Linked DNA regions of Homo sapiens. The protein of the gene in region 1 interacts with the protein of each later gene in a biochemical or structural test. Each region holds a gene or a part of one and is shown on either strand. Other genes may lie near its edges.

The links. Proteins that work in one complex are often made in the same cells at the same time.
Region 2: the proteins of ARHGAP21 (region 1) and MYO18A interact in a test that uses a peptide from one of them, tested with the Homo sapiens proteins (one large-scale study listed by IntAct).

Annotation. Positions count from the first base shown.
Region 1 is NC_000010.11:24,584,881-24,589,014, forward strand, and holds part of ARHGAP21 (rho GTPase-activating protein 21), read right to left. Parts: intron 1,227-4,134; coding exon 1-1,226. UniProt on the Homo sapiens protein: Functions as a GTPase-activating protein (GAP) for RHOA and CDC42. Downstream partner of ARF1 which may control Golgi apparatus structure and function. Also required for CTNNA1 recruitment to adherens junctions.
Region 2 is NC_000017.11:29,170,399-29,173,898, forward strand, and holds part of MYO18A (unconventional myosin-XVIIIa), read right to left. Parts: intron 1-3,500.

The DNA of each region.
Region 1 (4,134 bases):
GTATGTCTGCGCCGGATGCTTTTCCTTTTAGCAGTCTCGGCATTCACTTTGTGATTCCCTACTCCAAACATGTCATCCGCAGGGGCTCTGGGTCTCAGTTTTAACCGATCTGCTATTTTCGTTTTCCATGTGGGTTCCTGTTTTTCGGATTCGCCTCTGGTGGGTGTCAGTAAACTCCCAGTTGACTTTCCTTTTTTCATAACATCAAACACTTTAGTTAACGAAGGTGCTTCTTTCTCATTCTTGGCATCTCCTAGACTTCCACTATCTGACTTGAATCTAGCTGATTTTTTCCTGGAAAGAGTATCACATTCGATGAGTTTATGGGAACTGAAGAGCTGTCTCCGGCTATCTAAACTTGATGTTAAACTTCCCTCGGTGCAACTTAATTCACTTCCTTCAGAATTTCTCCGGCTGCTCTTAGTCACTTCTTGCAGTTTTCCTCGGAAAAGCCTCTCTGAAGTCAAGGCTGTGGGGAACACGGGAAACTCGCTCTCGCTGTCGGTTTCCACAGGCCGCCCTTCACTGATGAGTTCGCTTCTCTCGTCATCTGCCTCGTCCCCCTTGCTCTCTGCCACGGATTGCACCTCAGGGCTCAGTCGACTGGAGTCCAGGCTAGTCAAGTATGTAGCAGACGATGTGGTGGAATAATCTGAGGTGATGGTGCTGACGTTGGCCAAAAACTCGCTATGTTTCGTTTCTGGACTGGTTGATTTCTTCATGGAAAACCTTGCCAGGGAGGCCTGGGAAGACGTGCTGAGCAAAGTGCCAGAGTCAGAGCCTGTCTCTTCAAGGTGGGAGGACTTCTGTGCCAGAAGTGACCTGGGGCTCTCTTTCAGGATGGCAAAGCGACAGCTGAGAGTTGGTGACTTGTTGTGTTTTGAGTTGTGTGGTGGTGAGGGTTCTTCAGAAGGCGTGCTCTCTTTTCCTAGTGATATCTTTTCATCTTTTGTCGTGCTGGGGTCTTTCCTAGTGCTGTTTTCTTTGGCAATGATGATCTTCTGTTTTCTGCCCAGTGTCTCACTTTCTTTTTTGGACTCCTCTTTAGTATCATTGTGACACTGTTCCACATTTTCTTTCTTAAAAAATACATTGTCCAGTTCATCTTCTGAGCTGCTAGGCTGTGCTTTTTCTTTCGGCTTCTTCCTCTTGCGACTAGCAGCTGCAAAGATGGAGGACACAAGCAGTTCCCTGCTATACTGATCCTTTCCAGATCCCCAAGAACCCTGGGAAGCAAGAGAGAAGAAAGACTCTGAGCATAAGAATGCAGCTGAGTTCATTTTCTGACAAGCTTGTCTCCCAAATATTTCTTATCAAATTATATCTACTAAAGCTCTGGAAGCATTAACAGTGCAATTAGCTTTTTTTTTAATACCTCTTTTTACCTTGAACCAAAGTCAAATTTTTATTTAATGAGTCCAATTTCTTGCCTCGTGGTATTTAACTGCCAAGCCACAGCTCATACACATCTGCCTTTCAGGAAAATAGTCTGTGCTTAGTGCTGATTCCTATCAAAATCCCCCAAACACCTGACCTTCCCTCCTTCCACAGTGCCCAGGCATTCTTCACTTCCTTCATTTGGAATAGAGGCATGGGATAGGTAAAACAATATTGTGACACGGTCAAACATCATATTCTGATATAGGTTATTAAACATCACATTCTGATATAGGTTATTAAATGTTTATGACTGACTTTGATTTTTCTAATTACAGGTACCACATGATATAGATACTGTATCAGATAAGCTCATTGAGATAAGGGAACTCTGGTCTTCCATTAGTTCATTCAGGCAGGATCTTCAAGGATCTGCCTTAAGTAAATCAGGTTGGTAATGTCTTCATTTATCTCAAGGTAACAATGGAATTAGAATATTCAAAAAACAGGCCAGGTGTGGTGGCTCATGCCTGTAATCCCAGCACTTTGGGAGGCTGAGGCGGGCAGATTGCTCGAGCCCAGAAGTTCGAGATCAGCCTAGGGAACATGGTGAAGGCCTGTCTCTACAAAAAATTAAGTGGGCATGGTGGCACGCACCTGTGGTCCTGGCTACTTGGGAGGCCGAGGTCAGAGGATCACCTGAGCCTGGGGAAGTCAAGGCTGCAGTGAGCATGAGGGTACCATTGCACTCCAGCCTGGGTGACAGAGTGAGAACCCACCCCAGGAAGGTAGAAAGGAAAGATCAATTAACATAAGTACAATTAAATCCTTACCACAGAAACACTGTAGTGCAGTGTTATTGGGAAAGTTATTTGCTATGTATAATAGGTTCTTTTAAAAAAAATTTTTTAAGATGGAGTTTCACCATGTTGCCCAGGCTGGTCTAGAAGCCTTAGTCTCAAGCTATCCTCCCACCTCAGCCTCCCAAAGTGCCAGGATTTACAGGCATGAGCCACTGCATCTAGATATAATAGGTTCTTGATTGCAACTATTAGTTTCTTCCTAAATATCTGCTGGTTTACCACACACTTTTTAAGACAAGCAGGTAGGCAGGAGGTATGCTGAGTAATAGAAACAGACAGTATATTTCTCTATTGCCTGCAAATCTTAGACAAGTTAAAACTGCTCTATTTAAAGTCTTAAAGTAAAAATTTAGGCTGTTCTATCAAAGAATTTAGGCTGTTCTATCAAAAATTCGCTAAGATGAAATCACAGATGAACAGAACTTTGTTTTTACAAGTTATAAAGACTTTCATAATTATCCAGCACATTTCTAATGGTTATTTACATTTCCCCACATTGTGCTGAAGACTGTAGGGGATAATGGTTGTGACTGGGCTCTCAATTGGGAGACCTTGATGTCCATCCTCTCTAGCTTGCTGGGTACGAGCAAGGGATTCACTTTTAAACATCTCAGTTCCGTGGCGAGAAGCAATTAGATTATACTGTCTTTCAGATTTCCTTAAGGTTCTCTTTACAATTCTATGATCATATATGTGTTGAGGCAAATTACTCTACTTTTCTACAGAGACTGTTTGTTAGAAGTAGTTAATCATGTCATTGGGATATCCACTATATTACAGGCATAGCATAACACCACTATGGATAAGATGAAAAGGCTACTGTAATAACAGGTTAAGAAAAATGCATCTAGAGAAGGGAAAAGCAGGGATTTCAAACAGGTCTCTCTGGTTTAAAATCTCATCTGCTGGCAACAGAGTTAAGGAAACTGTTCTAGATTAAAGAAGTCTAAAGAGATTTGACAAAGAAATGCAAGGAATGATCCTTGACTGCATTCTGTATAAGGAAGTAAAGAATATTACTGGGACAATCTGTATAAAAACTGCACATTAGATAATAATGTGTTGTACTTACCTCAGTTTCCTGAGTATGAAAATTACACTGTAATTATATAGGAGAATGCCCCAGTTCTCTGGTGATACATGCTGAAGTATTTAGGAGTAGTGTTATCTCTACAAGTAACTATCAAATGATTCAGAACAAAAGTGTGAATTTACAATTGATGAATCTAGGGTAAAGGATTTGGGTGCTATTATTTTAGCAGCTTTAGGGTAAAGGATTTGGGTGCTATTATTTTAGCAGCTTTTCTGTAGGTTTAACATTTTTCAAGATAAAAAGCTGGGCAAAAAGATAAACATCACAAGTAATAGAGACATGATAAAGCATTTTTGTAAGAATTATAATTTAATCATATGGAGTCCTGTTATGATATTTAAACATGATATGTAAAATTCATGTCTCATTACAAAATATAACAATGTTTTAAGAAGTCTGACAATTCCAGTTGCTACTGCCTCAACAGTGCAAAATTTAGATCCACTGACTTGACAAAAAACTTTCTAAGAACTATAAATGTCCCACAAACTACTCAAAAAGTTGTGTAATTGAGGGAACACAGATTGTGTAAAAATATTATTTAAAAAATTAGTGATTTCACTGAAAAGGCAAGACTATACTGTCTGTAAAAATGCATAACAAAAAATTGGTATTTCTGAAATATTTACAGATGATATGATGCTTGGGATTTGTGTAAAGATGGTCCTAGAGGGAGGGAAGCAGGTGGCGTACAGAGCAAACGGAGTCGGCCGAGTGCTGATAATTACTGGAGATGAAGATGGGTGCAGGGAGGCTTCTCATTTTATTATTCACTTCTGTATATGTTAGGACCTAATTTTC
Region 2 (3,500 bases), on another chromosome or scaffold:
AGATCTGCAATGCGACTGCTGCTCCATGGCCTTCTTGTAGACCTTGCACTTTCCGGCACCTCCTGGCCTCAGGTCCAAAGTCTCCAACAGCTCTGATACCACTACCTTCCTACCCCCTATCCCGGGCTGCAGTTTCCATCTGCCTCCCATTCCTCTCCTACCCTCTCCCTCCACTCCAGTAAAGGTAACCTTATAATTTTCCTGACCTCCTTTTCTGCGTTTCTCTCCTCATCATACTCTAAGAAGTTTTTCCTAATTTTAAGAAAAGGAAGGCATCTATGTAAGTTAGGGTATGGACCCGAATAATCTTGCTCTTACTATCCCCAAAAACAAAAAGAAAGTACAATCTGTCAACTCAGCTGCTCTATCACTTTAAGAGAGTAAGCATCCCGAAGGCAATGACCATCAACCTCAAATATACATCTATCTGTCCATCAGAGTGCATAAACAATGCTCATATTCATGCAATGGAATACTACTCAGCAAGAAAAAAGAAACAACTAAAGATACACACAATGGGGATGGACTTCAAAATCATGATGTCAAGTGAGAGGGAAAGAAGTCTTTGACAAAGAGCACATATGGGTATGATTCTCTTTATATGAAGTTCTAGTGCAGGCAAAACTAACCTATGGTGGGGGTAGGAGTGGGATCGCATGAGGGAACTTTTTGGGGTGATATTCATGTCCTGTATATTGATAGCGGTTTGGGTTGATAAGTATATGCACTTGTCAAGTTATCAAATGGTGCACATAAGATTTGTGCGTTCAGCCAGGCGCGTTGGCTCACGCCTGTAATACCAGCACTTTGGGAGGCCAAGGCAGGTGGATCATGAGGCCAAGAGATCGAGACCATCCTGAAACCCCGTCTCTAATAAAAATAAAAAAAATTAGCCGGGCGTGGCAGCACACACCTGTAGTCCCAGCTACTAGGGAGGCTGAGGCAGGAGAATCGCTTGAACCTGGGAGGCGGAGGTTGCAGTGAGCCAAGATGATTGCGCCACTGCACTCTAGCCTGGGAGACAGAGCAAGACCCCATCTCAAAAAAAAAAAGATTTGTGCATTCATTGTTTGTAAATATCCACTCAAAAGAAAAGAACTATAAACAAATATTGAACTCTAGTGAATGATATGTATGTTAAAGTATTTGGGGCGAAATATACTGATGTCTACGTTTTACTTTGAGATGTGTAAAATTTTAAGACAGCTTGATGAGGTTGGGCAAGGTGGCTCACATCTATAATCCCAACACTTTGGGAGGCCGAGACGGGCAGATCGCTTGAGCTCAGGAGTCGGAGACAAGCCTGGGCAACATGGCAAAGCCCTGTCTCTACTCAAAATACAAAAAATTATCTGGATGTGGTGGTGCATGCCTGTGGGAGCTACTTGGGAGGCTAAAGTGGGAAGATCACCTGAGCCTGGGAGGTCGAGGCTACATTGAGCCACGATCATGCCATTGCATTCCAGCCTGGGTAACAGAGTAAGACCCTGTCTCAAAAGAAAGAAAGAAAAAAAAAAAAAACCATAGCCTGATGGATGGATCAAGGGATACAGATGTGTAAAAGCAAGGATAGGAAAATGTTAATTGTAGAATCTAGGAAATGGAGGGTATTCGTTGCAAAATTCTTTAACTTTTCTGAATGTTTGCAGGTCATTGTGATAAAATTTTGGGAAAAAATATGTATCTATCAGCCACTTCCTAAAGGCAAGCAACATAAAGATAAGTAAGCCCAGTGTCAGAGCTCAGGCTTTGGATATCAAGTAACAAACCTGTGAACAAATCTGAGTAAACAGGGCCGGGCGCAATGGCTCACGCCTGTAATCCTAGCACTTTGGAAGGCCGAGGAGGGCAGATCACCTGAGATCAGGTGTTCGAAACCAGCCTGGTCAACACGGTGAAACCTTGTCTCTACTAAAAATAGCTGGGCATGGTGGCATGCGCCTGTAATCCCAGCTACTCAGGAGGCTGAGGCAGGAGAATCGCTGAAACCTGGGAGGCAGAGGTTGCAGTGAGCCGAGATCATGCCACTGCACTCCAGCCTGGGCGACAGAACAAGACTCTGTCTAAAAAAAAAAAAATTAAATAAAAATGAAAAAAAATATGAGTAAATAGCTATGAAATCTCAGGCAAATCACTTAAGGCCTCCATGCCTCCATTTCCCCATCTATAAAAATGGAGATAATAATGGTACCTACCACCTAAGGTGGGGGAATTAAATGAAATATATTTAATTACCCTCAGAGAGGTACCTAATAGTAGCAGGGCACAGTTTTTGCAGTCTAAATGACACAGTAGAGAGGATAACAGAGTACACAAGTATGACTAAAATAAGTCAAAACCTTTGTACATGGAAAGTAAAGCCCAAAGAAGTGAAGGTAACTTGATAAGCACAAGGCCAAGCTGGATCACACTGGCTTGAGTCCAGAGGGCCCACGTAGCTAGTGCCAAGGATACTATGGACAGGCAATTTGTAGGGGCAGAAATACAAATGGCCATCAAACATGAACAGGTATTCAGCCTCCATAACATTCACAGACATGTGAAATTGAGGTATACTATTTTCAATTAGCAGTTTAGTAAAAACTATCAAGGTTGATAATATCAATCAATTAGGGCATGGGATGCAGGGAGTCTCATAAGTCTTGGTGGAAACACAAATTGGTAGGTTGGTGCAAAAGTAATTATGGTTTTTGCCGTTACTTTTTTTTTTTTTGAGACGGAGTTTCGCTCTTGTTGCCCAGGCTGGAGTGCAATGGCCCGATTTCAGCTCACTGCAATCCGCCTCCCGGGTTCAAGCAATTCTCCTGCCTCAGCCTCCTGAGTAGCTGGAATTACAGGCATGCGCCACCATGACCGGCTAATTTTGTATTTTTAGTAGAGACGGGGTTTCTCCATGTTGGTCAGGCTGGTCTTGAACTCCTGACCTCAGGTGATCTGCCTGCCTCGGCCTTCCAAAGTGCTGGGATTACAGGCTTGAGCCACTGCGCCCGGCCCTTTTTTTTTTTTTTGAGACGCAGTCTTGCTCTTTCACCAGGCCAGAGTGCAGTGGCACGATCTCTGCTCACTGCAAGCTCCGCCTCCCGGGTTCACGCCATTCTCCTGCCTCAGCCTCCCGAGTAGCTGGTACTACAGGCGCCCGCCACCGCGCCTGGCTAATTTTTTGTATTTTTAGTAGAGACGGGGTTTCACCATGTTACCCAGGATGGTCTCGATCTCCTGACCTCGTGATCCGCCCGCCTCGGCTCCCAAAGTGCTGGGATTACAGGCGTGAGCCACCGCACCCGGCCTGCCGTTACTTTTTAATGGCAAAAACCTCAATTACTTTTGCACCAACTAATGTATTTTCAGAGGTCAAGTCAGTGGTATCTGTGAAAAAAAAAAATTTTTTTAAGAGACAAGGTCTTGCTTTGTCACCCAGGCTGGAGTTTGGTGGCTCAATCATAGATCACTACAGACTTGAACTCCTGGGCTCAAGTGATCCTCCTGTCTTAGCCTCCTGA